Homo sapiens: one gene and its partners. The protein of the gene in region 4 purifies or fractionates together with the protein of the main gene of each other region. This does not show direct contact. Each region holds a gene or a part of one and is shown on either strand. Other genes may lie near its edges.

The links. The genes of interacting proteins can lie anywhere in the genome.
Region 1: the proteins of NLRC4 (region 4) and NLRP1 purify together in Homo sapiens (affinity purification with western blotting, with the first as the bait; one study listed by BioGRID). This does not show direct contact.
Region 2: the proteins of NLRC4 (region 4) and NOD1 purify together in Homo sapiens (affinity purification with western blotting, with the first as the bait; one study listed by BioGRID). This does not show direct contact.
Region 3: the proteins of NLRC4 (region 4) and XK purify together in Homo sapiens (affinity purification with western blotting, with the first as the bait; one study listed by BioGRID). This does not show direct contact.

Annotation. Positions count from the first base shown.
Region 1 is NC_000017.11:5,553,510-5,557,009, forward strand, and holds part of NLRP1 (NACHT, LRR and PYD domains-containing protein 1), read right to left. Parts: intron 1,090-3,500; exon of another isoform or gene 997-1,089; intron 635-996; exon of another isoform or gene 492-634; intron 48-491; coding exon 1-47.
Region 2 is NC_000007.14:30,451,285-30,454,784, reverse strand, and holds part of NOD1 (nucleotide-binding oligomerization domain-containing protein 1), read left to right. Parts: intron 1-1,744; coding exon 1,745-3,500. UniProt on the Homo sapiens protein: Pattern recognition receptor (PRR) that detects bacterial peptidoglycan fragments and other danger signals and thus participates in both innate and adaptive immune responses.
Region 3 is NC_000023.11:37,692,291-37,695,790, reverse strand, and holds part of XK (endoplasmic reticulum membrane adapter protein XK), read right to left. Parts: intron 1,506-3,500; coding exon 1,243-1,505; intron 1-1,242.
Region 4 is NC_000002.12:32,237,387-32,240,886, forward strand, and holds part of NLRC4 (NLR family CARD domain-containing protein 4), read right to left. Parts: intron 917-3,500; coding exon 746-916; intron 1-745.

The sequences.
Region 1 (3,500 bases), on a different chromosome or scaffold from region 4:
AGAAGAGAATCTGCCAATAGGCATCTGTGACTGGGACCCACCTGAACCTGAGGGGGAGAGAGAAGGACAGGAGAGATGTGATGTGTCTGGCAGGGGTTTGAGGTGCCCAGCCCTGCACAACACAGTTGGGCTTTGTCCCCCTGAGCACCAGGCCACAGCGGGTAGTGCCATCTCCAGTACTGACCAGCCCTCCCTGCCTGTCTGCCCGTCACCCAGGGCTAGGTCCCTCTCCTCCATGTGGCTCCTCATTCTACAGCCCTTACCATAGCACACTGAAGTGTTCACCTTGTGTGTCTGTTTCTGCCTCAGTCTGGGAGTTCCTTGAGGGCAGGGACAGACATTTGTCTTTTTTTTTTTTTTTTTAAATCTGCACTGCTCAGCATAGGGCCTGGCCTCGGTGCTGAGCACTGCAGATAAGAAAAAAATTTTTTAAAAAAATTTGACAATTTTAATTTAAAAAAAATTTGACAGCCTTCCTCCCTTTGATGCAGACACACCTGTGTTCCTTTGGCACAGACATTCTGGAGTCCCAGTGCCCAGGAAAGAAGACGGGAGGCAGTAGCAGAGCCTGGGAGAGATGGCCTGAGGATGTTGTGATGGAAGACTGTATATGATCATATGCACTGCTGTCCAGGTTGGCTCACATGGGACCCTATCCCCTTCCCAGGATAACAAGAGGGTCTGCAGGAGAGGGATGGCTGTGGGGAGTGCCCTAGGAGAGAATATTTGCAGCCTGAGGGGAAGAGATGACGGGCTTTGTCTGAGGGTGTTAGAGTAGACTCCGACTCATGGAATTTCCACCCATTTAATCTGTTTTCACACACTACTTTAGTGACCTCATCTACCTCCAAGGCTTCAACTACTCAAATCTCTATTCCAAGTTTCAGACTGAGTTTTCTATTTTCTGGTTGGATATCCCCACCTTGACATCCCAGTAATTCTTTGATCTAATTTGTCCCAACAAGTCCCCAACCTGAATTCATCTTTTCCCCTAAGTCTGCAGAGCCATGTGGGGGCAAGAAGCAGAGGCAAGGAGCTGCCTGCATGTGGGCTCTGCTTCTCTATCCCTCACTCCGTCTCCTCCGCTGCAAAAAGAGGACAGCAATAGCACCTGCTGCAGAGGGGTATGTGAGAATTAAAAGCTACTAAAGAGTATCCCAAAAGTCCTAGAGCAGTTTTAAGTTTTAATAACTGTGAAAGTACAAGTACTACAAACATATAAAAAAAGCCAGCTGAGTGCAGTGGCTCTAGCCTGTAATCCCAGTACTTGAGGAGGTAGAGGCAGGAGGATCGATTGAGCCCAGGAGTTTAAGACCAGCCTGGGCAACATAGTAAGATCCTGTTTCTACAAAAAATAAAAAAAATTAGGCAATGTGGTGGTGTGCACCTGTAGTCCCAGCTACTCAGGAGGCTGAGGCAGGAGAATGGCTTGAACCTGGGAGGCCAAGGTTGCAGTGAGGTATGGTCATGCCACTGCACTATTCCTGGGAGACACAGTGAGATCCCATCACACACACACACACACACACACACACACACACACACACGAAAAAAAGCCATAAATGAAAGCTTACTTGAATTTCTTTTACACTTACTTAGTTTTGTGAAACTTGAAAAATACATTTTAAATTTTTTATTTCCGTTGGCATTTGCCATCCTTAATCAAGGTGACTGAAAAAAAATTAAAAATTTATACTTGAAAATGCACAATGCTTAATCACATGCCAAACACCTGGAAGCTCCCATCCTGTCATCTTCATTTCTTTAATATCTCTGGTTGGTTCTCCTCTTCCTTCACACAGCCCTTGGCCAACCTCCACCCTTTCTTCCTGAACTTTCTTGTTTTTTTTATAGTAGCTTCCTTATTCTTCTCTCTGCCTTGTCTAGCTGATTCAGTTCCTTGAAAATTTCTCCTCCCACTTGTGGCTGAAGCCTCTGACTTTCCCACGGCATTCTCTTAAGGCTCCACTTGCTCCCGCCCATCCCAAACTCTCCTCTCTGGCCTGGTGTTCTTGGTTCCCTTTGCCTATCCCAGCCCCCATCCCCCGGCCAGCCACCATCTGGTCTCTGCCTCTAGCTGCTTGGAACTCTTTGAAGATTTCCCACCTGTCCACTGCTACTTGCAGTACCTGTATCCAGGTCCTTTAAAGCCTACCTCACATTTATAACTATGAACAACTAGAAGCAGCTTAAAATGGCCAAGAACAGGAGAATGGTCAAATCAGCCATGGCACTTTCCCTATGGAATAGCATGTGGTCATTCAAAATGGTGTTGTATCAGACTACTTAAAAATATATAAAGGGCTGGCATGGTGGCTCATGCCTGTGATCCCAGCACTTTGGGAGGCTGAGGCAGAAGGATCATTTGAGGTCAGGAGTTCAAGACCAACCTGGCCAACATGGTGAAACCCCGTTTCTACTAAGACGACAAAAAATTAGCTGGGTGTGGTGGTGCGTGCCTGTAATCCCAGCTACTCTGGAGGCTGAGGCATGAGAATTGCTTGAACCTGGGAGGCAGAGGTTGCAGTGAGCAGAGATCGTGCCACCGCATGCCAGCCTGGTGACAGAGCAAGACTCTGTCTGTCTCTGTCTCTGTCTCTCTCTCTACACACACACACACACACACACACACACACACACACACACACACACATGAAGGGCTGGGCATGGTGGCTCACATCTGTGATCCCAGCACTTTGGGAGGTCAAGGTGAGCAGCTTGCTTGAGCCCAGGAGTTTGAGACCAGCTTGGTCAACACAGTGAAATCTCATCTCTATACAAAAAATATACAAAAATTATCGCTGCATGTTGGCATGCTCCTGTAGTCTCAGCTCCTAGCGGGGCTGAGGTAAGAGGATCCCTTAAACTCGGGTGGTCCAGGCTGCAGTGAGCTGTGATTGCACCACTGCACTCCAGCCTAGGGGACAGAGCGAGACTCCGTCTCAGACAACAACAAACCAAAAAAAAAAAAAAATACCCCACACCCACTCACAAGAAGATAGCCTTGATATATAAAGAAAATAAAACTGACTATAAAATAAAATGTACAATATGGTTCGATTTCGCCATAGACATGTGCACAGAAAAAAGACTGGGGTTCTTACAATTGACCACTAATTTTTTTTTTTTTTGAGACTGAGTTTTGCTCTTTTTCCCAGGCTGGAGTGAAGTGGCACAATCTCAGCTCACTGCAACCTCTGCCCCTGACCTGTCAAGTGATTCTCCTGCCTCAGCCTCCTGAGTAGCTGGGATTACAGGCGCCTGACACCATTTTCGGCTAATTTATGTATTTTTAGTAGAGATGGGGTTTCACCATGTTGACCAGGCTGGTCTCGAACTCCTGACCTCAGGTGATCCACCTGCCTCGGCCTCCCAAAGTGCTGGGATTACAGGTGTGAGCCACCACACCCAGCCAATTTTTAATGATGGTTATTACAGAATGATGGAATTCTTATTGATACTATTTTTCATCTTTTTGCTTATCTACGTTATCTTTTGTT
Region 2 (3,500 bases), on a different chromosome or scaffold from region 4:
AGCACACACCTGTAGTTCCAGCTACTCAGGAGGCTGAGGCAAGAGGACTGCTTGAGCCCCAGAGTCTAAGGCTGCAGCGAGCTATGATTGTGCCCCTACACTCCAGCCTGGGTGACAGAGTGAGACCCTGTCTCTAAAAAAGGAAAGAAAAAAATTAAAAAGCCTTGCCAGGTTTGATTCTAGGCAAAGTATTCTGTCACCGTTGAGTGCCAGTCCTTATTTCCAAACTAATGGAAGACCCCATCAGTTAACTGATTAGTTCAATAAGTATTTTTTGCTGTATCCACCACATGCCAAGACCCTACACTGTGCTGGATGTCAGGGAGACAGTGGTGAGCAGACACAGACAGGGTTCCTGCCCTCAGGGAGCTTCAAGTCAGCTGGAAGAGACCACCAGTCAGCAATCTCAAAAATGTGTCAGGACAGCGGCAGTCCAAGGCATGTGAGAACATATCATTAGGGCCAGGATCTGCTCTGGGGCAGGAGTCTTCTTTCCCTGCTTTTGAACTCTCCACTTTGAGACAGCTGTTGGTAACATACCAGCACCAAGGACCTAAGTCCTGCCTTTTAAAGAATCCAATATGTTGTTGGAAACAGAAGCACAAGACAGGTGTGTGCTTAGGGGAAACAAGGCCAGCCGGCAGAGTGTCAGTGCTAGGCTCCAGCTTCCACAGCCCCTGCAGGTGCCTGCCAGCCACTGCTAGCTTCTGACTCTGTCTGCTCCTTCCTGTCTCCCCTTGTTTCCTTCCCCCATGAAAAAAAAAGAAAGTATTCCCATGAGGAATCATTCTTTCGAAAGACTTCTCTGTTGGTTCCGTTAGCCAGCTACTTTACTAGCTTTTACAGTGTAATTCACTCTACAAGCAGTCTCACACAAAAGACTACATATTGTATGATTCTGTTTATATGAAATGTCCAGAAAAGGTAAATCTATAGACAAAGCAAATCAGTAGTTGCCTACGGCCCAGGGATTGGCTACAAATAGGCTCCAGAAAACTCTGGGAAGATGGTAGAGATGTTCTAGACCTGGACTGTGGTGAGGTTTGCACAACTTTGTAAACTTACTAAAAATTACTGACAAATATATAACACTCCCTAACACTTTGGGAGGCCGAGGTGGGCAGATCGCTTGAACCCAGGAATTTGAGACCAGCCTGGGCAACATGGCGAGACCCCGTCTCTACAAAAAAACACAAAAATTAGTTGGGCTTGGTGGCATATGCCTGTGTCCCAGCTACTTGGGAGGCTGAGGTGGGAGGATTGCTTGAGCCTGGGAGTTTGAGACTGCATGATTGGGTCACTGCACCCTAGCCTGAGTGACAGAGCAGGACCCTATCTCTAACAACAAAAAAGCAGTGTTGGTGGAGGAGGGCCAGCGTGGCCATCTGGCCTGGCCCTCGAGTGCGAGGGGCTTCAGTGTTTAGCTGCAGTTCAGTGATGACACTGTGCGGAGGAATAAGGGTGGCCTGTCTCAGACACTGATCCCAGCTGAAGTTTGTCACCTTCTTTCTGGCAAATCTGAGGTCAAGCAGAGAGATCAAAGCCTGGGGCCCTCAGGGTCAGGAATGCTGGCTCTGTGACGCTCCCCAGGTCCTGCATCTGAGGAGTGGCTGCGCTGGCCTCAGGGCCCAGGTTGTGAATTTTGTTTATGCACTCGCCTCTCCTCTTTGAGACCTCCCTGTTTGATGCTGTTTCTGCCTCTCTCCTCACCCTGCTGCTGTGCCCTGCCACCCCCTCCCTCCAGTGAGCAGGTATACCCAGCAGCTGCGACACCATCTGGGCCGTGACTCCAAGTTCGTGCTGTGCTATGCCCAGAAGGAGGAGCTGCTGCTGGAGGAGATCTACATGGACACCATCATGGAGCTGGTTGGCTTCAGCAATGAGAGCCTGGGCAGCCTGAACAGCCTGGCCTGCCTCCTGGACCACACCACCGGCATCCTCAATGAGCAGGGTGAGACCATCTTCATCCTGGGTGATGCTGGGGTGGGCAAGTCCATGCTGCTACAGCGGCTGCAGAGCCTCTGGGCCACGGGCCGGCTAGACGCAGGGGTCAAATTCTTCTTCCACTTTCGCTGCCGCATGTTCAGCTGCTTCAAGGAAAGTGACAGGCTGTGTCTGCAGGACCTGCTCTTCAAGCACTACTGCTACCCAGAGCGGGACCCCGAGGAGGTGTTTGCCTTCCTGCTGCGCTTCCCCCACGTGGCCCTCTTCACCTTCGATGGCCTGGACGAGCTGCACTCGGACTTGGACCTGAGCCGCGTGCCTGACAGCTCCTGCCCCTGGGAGCCTGCCCACCCCCTGGTCTTGCTGGCCAACCTGCTCAGTGGGAAGCTGCTCAAGGGGGCTAGCAAGCTGCTCACAGCCCGCACAGGCATCGAGGTCCCGCGCCAGTTCCTGCGGAAGAAGGTGCTTCTCCGGGGCTTCTCCCCCAGCCACCTGCGCGCCTATGCCAGGAGGATGTTCCCCGAGCGGGCCCTGCAGGACCGCCTGCTGAGCCAGCTGGAGGCCAACCCCAACCTCTGCAGCCTGTGCTCTGTGCCCCTCTTCTGCTGGATCATCTTCCGGTGCTTCCAGCACTTCCGTGCTGCCTTTGAAGGCTCACCACAGCTGCCCGACTGCACGATGACCCTGACAGATGTCTTCCTCCTGGTCACTGAGGTCCATCTGAACAGGATGCAGCCCAGCAGCCTGGTGCAGCGGAACACACGCAGCCCAGTGGAGACCCTCCACGCCGGCCGGGACACTCTGTGCTCGCTGGGGCAGGTGGCCCACCGGGGCATGGAGAAGAGCCTCTTTGTCTTCACCCAGGAGGAGGTGCAGGCCTCCGGGCTGCAGGAGAGAGACATGCAGCTGGGCTTCCTGCGGGCTTTGCCGGAGCTGGGCCCCGGGGGTGACCAGCAGTCCTATGAGTTTTTCCACCTCACCCTCCAGGCCTTCTTTACAGCCTTCTTCCTCGTGCTGGACGACAGGGTGGGCACTCAGGAGCTGCTCAGGTTCTTCCAGGAGTGGATGCCCCCTGCGGGGGCAGCGACCACGTCCTGCTATCCTCCCTTCCTCCCGTTCCAGTGCCTGCAGGGCAGTGGTCCGGCGCGGGAAGACCTCTTCAAGAACAAGGATCACTTCCAGTTCACCAACCTCTTCCTGTGCGGGCTGTTGTCCAAAGCCAAACAGAAACTCCTGCGGCATCTGGTGCCCGCGGCAGCCCTGAGGAGAAAGCGCAAGGCCCTGTGGGCACACCTGTTTTCCAGCCTGCGGGGCTACCTGAAGAGCCTGCCCCGCGTTCAGGTCGAAAGCTTCAACCAGGTGCAGGCCATGCCCACGTTCATCTGGATGCTGCGCTGCATCTACGAGACACAGAGCCAGAAGGTGGGGCAGCTGGCGGCCAGGGGCATCTGCGCCAACTACCTCAAGCTGACCTACTGCAACGCCTGCTCGGCCGACTGCAGCGCCCTCTCCTTCGTCCTGCATCACTTCCCCAAGCGGCTGGCCCTAGACCTAGA
Region 3 (3,500 bases), on a different chromosome or scaffold from region 4:
ATATTTTAAGAATCATAATCAGGCAACCTGGATAAGGGAGATGGCTCTAACATGTAAGTATCCTGTGACTCTGACATGAATTATTACTAGCCAGTCTAAAACATAGGCAGAAAGAGGATAAAACTGAGTGAAGTAAAATAAATAAGAGTCTTTCTTATCTTCAATGTTTTCTTAAACATGTATTTTTTCAACTTACGGCTTTTAAATCATTTTGTATACCGATAATAAAACTTACCATAATGGTTTTCGTTTACCCATAATATTAATACTTGGGAGGGGGTTGTTTCCACTTCTCATTTGTAGGCTTTTCATTAAAATCTTGACTCTGATGCAAATAGTGTTTTTTTTTTTTAACTTAACCAAAATCTGCTCTTAATTTGATGATGTGAGAATAGCCCAAAGGTAGAATATTGTCTTGACTTATAAACTGATATACCTATTACAAGTCTAAGAAGACAGGAAAGTGGCCTTGTTCCATTATTCACCACAAAGTTGTTAAGCCAACTGTCTCAACTAGTTTAGAACTAGCACTGAAAGACAGAGTGAAATCCCAAGAGAAGCAGCCTCCAGTAGCTGTGTTTTCAGCCTCTGGTAAACTGTATTTTCTAAAAATGGCCACAGTGGTATTTTTGGTCCCAGGTGATCTTCTAGAACTCTACCATTCCACAACAAGAGTCAGAGTTTGCTTCCCTCTCCTCTCCCTTGAATCTGGGCAGAACTCTGTAAGTATTTCAACAATGAGAAGGAAGCAGAAGTGATGTCCCACAACTCCCAAGCCTGGATCACAAAAGCTGATGTGGCTTCCATCTGGCCTTCCCTCCTTCTTAGAACACTCACCCTTGGAAGCAGCTACCATGCTATAAGGAAGCCCAAACTCACCCACACAGAGAAATCAAATGGAGAAGATCTGAAACTCCCAGCAACAGCCAATATCAAAACATGTGAACAACAAGACATGTGAGTGAAGGGGCCTTGAATAGATTCTAGCCCCCTACCTTTGAGCCACCCTAGCTGATCCACAGTGGATCACAGATTAGGTAACCCTTTTGAGCCCTGCCTAGAATGCAGAGTCATAAGCAAAATAAACGTTGTTATTTTAATTGAGTTTTGAGCATAGTAACTAGAACACAGATTCAGAATTAAGTGCACTTAAGAACAAATTTCCTTTGAAACAAAATAAACTGCATATTTTGCTTCTCATTTTGATCCCCAAATGCAGGCAGAAATAAAAAATACACGTACTTCTTCCAACAGTGACGTCCTGCTGCATGACACTTATGTACAGCTGTAGGGTCAGCTGGGGGGCTGAGCCCAAGAAAGCCTGGATCACCGACGCCCGGCTGAACGCTGATCGGTGGGTGATTAGTTTGCCTTCTGCCTGGCCCACCTCCTTCTCAATCTCCTCTGAGAGGCCATTTTTTGGCATTTGCCTCTTCTTGGTGATACTGACATAAGGCTCTTCATTGTTGCCTGACTGAAAGTAGATGCAGAAGACTTCAAAACACCTGAAAACAAATCAGGAAATCATAATAATTAGAGACAGACAGGATTCTGACTTTCCATGCTCATCCTACTTACCTTTAGCCTGATTCTTAAAGCCTTGACTTGGCTACTCTGAACTATAGTCACTCTTCTAAATCAACTACTCCAAGGACCAGTTCTCAGTATGCAGTCCTCTTGATGCTTTCCAGCAGGCCAATGGGAATTGAATGAGAACCAAATGAAGAGGTAATACCAAAGGCCACTGAAGCAAGGAAATCTCTTAGAGAATGGAAAGTGGTTCCGGCTCCAGAGCCACAGAAAAAATGTGCAGTTTCCCTTCCTGACACATACTAGCTGTGTAGCCATAGCCGAGTCACCTACTATCCCCACCCCAGCACATTCCCTCCACTATAAAGCAGATATAATACCCACTTTGTCATATTGCTGTGAAAAATGGTGATTATATAGTGTGACTGCATGCATGCATGCACGCACACACGTGTGTGTGTTCCACATCCAAAAGATGCCCCAAACCACCCCAGTTAAAGCAGAAGCTATGGCTCGGAAATCCTCCAGCACAGGGCAGCTTGCCATCTAGCATTTCACTGGGAGACCACAACATGTTACCTATCTCTGTTTTCATAAGTCCTTACAGGGCGGGACTAAAGTCAGTCCCAGACTTAATCAGTGACTTTTCCAGACTGAGAGAATACCTGGCTTTTAAAATTTGGATTTCCTCTCTAGGTAAAAATATGGATGCTGAAGTGGGAAGAATACTGATGTCTGTGATTAACTTTGAAGTACATACACACACACACACACACACACACACGAATTGATAGATGGATAAATATGTGAAACAAAATGTTAATTGTAGAATCTAGGTGGTGAGTACTTGGGTGTTCACTATAGAATTCCTTAAACTTGTCTTCTGTGTGTTTGAAAATTTTCATAATAAAATGCTGGTTAAAAATGTGTTTTCCCTAGGAGTAAGAAAAATATTCATGGCCGTAGGTTTGTAACTTGTTAAAGGACTTTTTGTCCCTCCTCTAACATGCACTTTTATAACAACCTTATGATGCTGCCAGAAGATTTTAATGGCTTAATCTATTTCATTGAATGTTTATGTTATAATGTTAACTTTATACTCTCATCCTGAGGTGACTACGGCAACTGGAATGTATTTATAATTTGAAATAATAAAATAAAGCTTGATGTAAGAGAGGAAATGCAGGAACCTTTCTGGTGAGCTCAAAGTGGACATATTTTGTGATTAATACCATTGTTCATTTGTTGCTAGGAGAAAGAAGGTGTATGGTGTGTGTGGGTGTGTGTGTGGGGGGGGGTTGATTTGTGTACGACATTTTGTCCCATGGGGTCAAGAACACTTTAATATATTACATGAAAACAATGTAAAACCACACAGACCAGTTTTTTCAGTTGGAAATAATGTCAATGAAGTTCAGGCCATGAGTTCAATCCCAAGCACGTCCAATTGAATTTTCTCTGAAGGAAAACTCAAATTAATGACTGAGGACTGTATGAGGCCTAGCAACTTTACACTGTTGGACCACTGATCACATCAAAGATTAGAAAACAGAATGAACTGGCCGGGGGCAGTGGCTCACGCCTGTAATCCCAGCACTTTGGGAGGCTGAGGCAGGCGGATCACCTGAGGTCAGGAGTTTGAGATCAGTCTGGCCAACATGGTGAAACCACATCTCTACTAAAAATTAAAAAATTAGCCAGGCATGGTGGTGCACCCTTGTAGTCTCACCTACTCGGGAGGCTGAGGCAGGAGAATTGCTTGAACACAAGAGGCGAAGATTGCGCCACTGCACTCCAGCCTGGGTGACAGAGCGAGACTCTGTCTCAAAAAAACAAACTAAAACAAAACAAAAACAGAATAAACTGATAATCATCTTTATTCTCAAATATGAGATGAATGCGGGTGTGGTTTACTAAGTGCTGTGGGGAATGCAGACAGCTGGATACCCCTGCCTCATTTGGGGGCACTC
Region 4 (3,500 bases):
TCTCCCCATCAGTAAGTAGAGAAATAAAGGCATGTGCTCATTGTTCTCATATTCCCAGTACTTATCCAGCCTTTTTCAACTGTGGGTTTCTCTAGCTGTAACTTTATATTAGTATACAAATGGCTTCCTTAGTTATCTTTAGAGACTCCCAGCAGTTATATAGTTTAACTTTAAAAAGATTATACCACTGTTTTCCAAAATCTAAATTTTAAAATATGTCTGAATTACACATGTATAGTTTATCCAGAAATATGCAGTTAGTTTCCCCGTAGTTGATATGCATCCCTTTGGGAACTCAGAAGGCTCAATTATCATATCATGCACATTAACTTCATCTTAACAGGGCAATGGGTAGGAATTAGAAGCCTGAGATCATTTAAGAAAATCTTTATCTCTCACTTCTCAATCATTTATCCATTCATTTAAATGTTTATTAGGCAGTAAATTATATGACCGGTTGTGTGGCAAGTTTCAAGCACCTATTTCTTATTTTCTTCCTTTTCACTTTCTCTAAAAATTACATCTTCAATTATTCTGAAATTCTCCCCTATTATCCATCAATAGTTGATTTAATTCTAATATGGAGAAAAATCATTAAAAACAATCTGCTTATTATCGAGAAGTTTTTATTTTCCAGTTTTCCTTAAAATTAAATTTCCATTTGAGACATTTAGTGTGAATTAGTATAATAGTATCACATGTTCTGTTATACTGTCCTCATTCAGTTAATGGAAGCAACAGTTACCTAGGATTTTCACTGCATTTGCAGACAAGCAGCAGGAGACTAATTGAATTTCTTCAAGGTCACAGGGTTCACTTGACAGAGACTTGACTATGTAATCCATTCCCTCTCCAATGTCAGACAAGTGGGTCAAATGAAATAAACACATCTTCTTCAGGTTTTTCAGGCCTTCAGCTGAAAAATGATAGAAAGGAATGCATTAGGATACCAAGTTAATTCGATTTAAGCATAGATTAATGAACTGAAAAGAAAGCAAAGAATAATTGTGCAGAGACCTTGCCATGTTCTTCCTGCAGCGACTTTAAGTTACAAAGAATCAACGAGAGCTTTTTTTCTTTCAATTCTCACTTTCCAGTCTCTTGGACCACACAAAAAATCACTTATATGGAGGTTATTCTCTTAGTAGCATGAGAAACACTGTAGTAAATTTGTAGTCTTTTTAATGGGCATCAATGTATACTCTTACCGTAATTCTTTACATGAATGAAGTCTTCTAGAGCACTCTCCTTTCAATCTTCTCAAAAATCTTAAACAGCGGGGGGGCTGAGTTCAGGGAGGTAGATGAGGACTTGGCTCCTTGGAGTGCTTCTAGTGCAACTGTCTACAGCCTCAAAAGCCTTGCCTGGACTCATGATATGGGGCCTGCCTGAAGCTTTAGAATGAAGACCACATCCACTGCAGCATGTTTAACCAGAAGAAAGATTTACCTTATATCAACAGTATAATTGGAAACATTCTAAAATATCCCCCGTTCTTAAGTCTAAAGCTAATGTGCAGTTTAGGATTGGTTAGGCCTCACTTTGTGTCATTAAAATACTGTCTTATCTTGATGGTACTGTAGCCTACGGGAAAGAAATATATGATTTTAATGACCAGGCATGGTGGCTCACACCTGTAATCCCAGCACTATGGGAGGCAGTGATAGGCGAATCACCTGAGGTCAGGAGTTCAAGACCAGCCTGTCCAACATGGCGGAACCCCATCTCTACTAAAAATACAAAAATTAGCTGGGCGTGATGGTGCACACCTGTAATCTCAGCTACTTCGGAGGTTGAGGCATTAGAATCGCTTGAACCCAGGAGGCAGAGGTTGCAGTGAGCCAACATCTCACCACTGCACTCCAGCCTGGGCGACAGAGCGAGACTCCCATCTCAAAGAAAAGAAAAGAAAAGAAATAAAATATATGATTCTAATAATATCAGTCTTGCAGAGCTTTCGGGAAGGTTGCAGATAATGTACGTTAACATATTTAATGTGGTGCCTGGCACATAGTAAGTGCTCCATAAATGTTCATTGTTGTCATGGGAGTATATACCGGTTAAAGGTTGTGAGCATGAGCTTTGCAGTCAGTTCCTGGATCCCCTACTTAATAATTATAAACTTGGGCAAGTTATTCAATCTTTTAGCTGAAGCGTTAGGGATCATTATATCTATGTACTAGGACTGTTGTGGGGATTCAATGGAATGAGGTATATAAAACTGCCGAGGCTAGTGTCTAATCTATAGCAGAGTAACTCTTTAATAAAGAGTAAATTATTACTGATATAATTAGACTGGTTTAGTCAAGTTCACATTTTGATTCCTTAATAGCAGAAGCAGGCTATCCTAGAGAGGTACTTTTTGACCTCTTTCTACCAGTTGGTAAGATCTTGAGCAAGTCAATAAGCTATTTTAGGTTCTAGTGGAGTTTTCTGTGAAATGAATGAGTTGAATTAGATGCTCTCAATCCCCTTCCAGCTCTGATTTTCTGTGTAATTTATACACATGCAATAAATGTTTATTGAACACTGAATTAATTTGATTATTCTCACGTAGGACATATAAGGAAAAGAAGTCAGCCATGTTTTGCTTTTGTTTTTGTTTTTGTTTCAAGATGGAGTCTATCTCTGTCACCGAGGCTGGAGTGCAGTGGAGCAATCTCGGCTCACTACAACCTCCTCCTCCTGAGTTCAAGTGATTATCCTTCCTCAGCCTCCCAAGTAGCTGGCATTACAGGTGCATACCACCATGCCCAGCTAATTTTTGTATTTTTAGTAGAGACAGGGTTTCACCATGTTGGCCAGGCTGGTCTCGAACTCCTGAACTCAGGTGATCCATCTGCCTCGGCCTCCCAGAGTGCTGGAATTACAGGTGTGATCCACCATGCCCAGGCTTCAGCCATGTTTGGCTTATAGGCTAGAGTTGTCTTTCGGCAGGAAGCAGAATAAGAAAGAACAAGATGAAGGGAAGAGAGGAGTATTTTAGTGAGGACTCAAGTAGGGAAAAAAAGAGCCAAAAAAAAAAAAAAAAAAAATCCAACACACGAGAAAACAGGGACATTCAAGGAAAGCAGCTTTAACAGGAATCCTCCCTGGCCTGCAGGGCCTGGTTCCCTGTGGTAAGCCATGTGTTCTGCTTGTGTTCCTGAAGTTTCCTTTTCCTTTTCATTTTTTTGATTGGGGAAACACAACCTGCAGTGTAGAATGAAAGCATGCTTCCCCCAAAGTTTTCTTGATTCACATTGTTTCCTGTGTCCTATTTCATTTATGAATTTTTTTAACTATGAAACCATAGTATAAACTTTAAAATATTGTTTCTATGCAACTATGAAACTATACTATAAACTTTAAAATATTGTTTCTATGCATTAAATAAAAACATAGCCAATGAGCCAGGGAGACGGAAGTTAAAAACACGTCAGGGGCTCTCTTCCCAAAAGGGTTACCATCTGGTGTTGTACAATTTGAATAAAATGATGCTGAAGGATTTTAATGGCAGT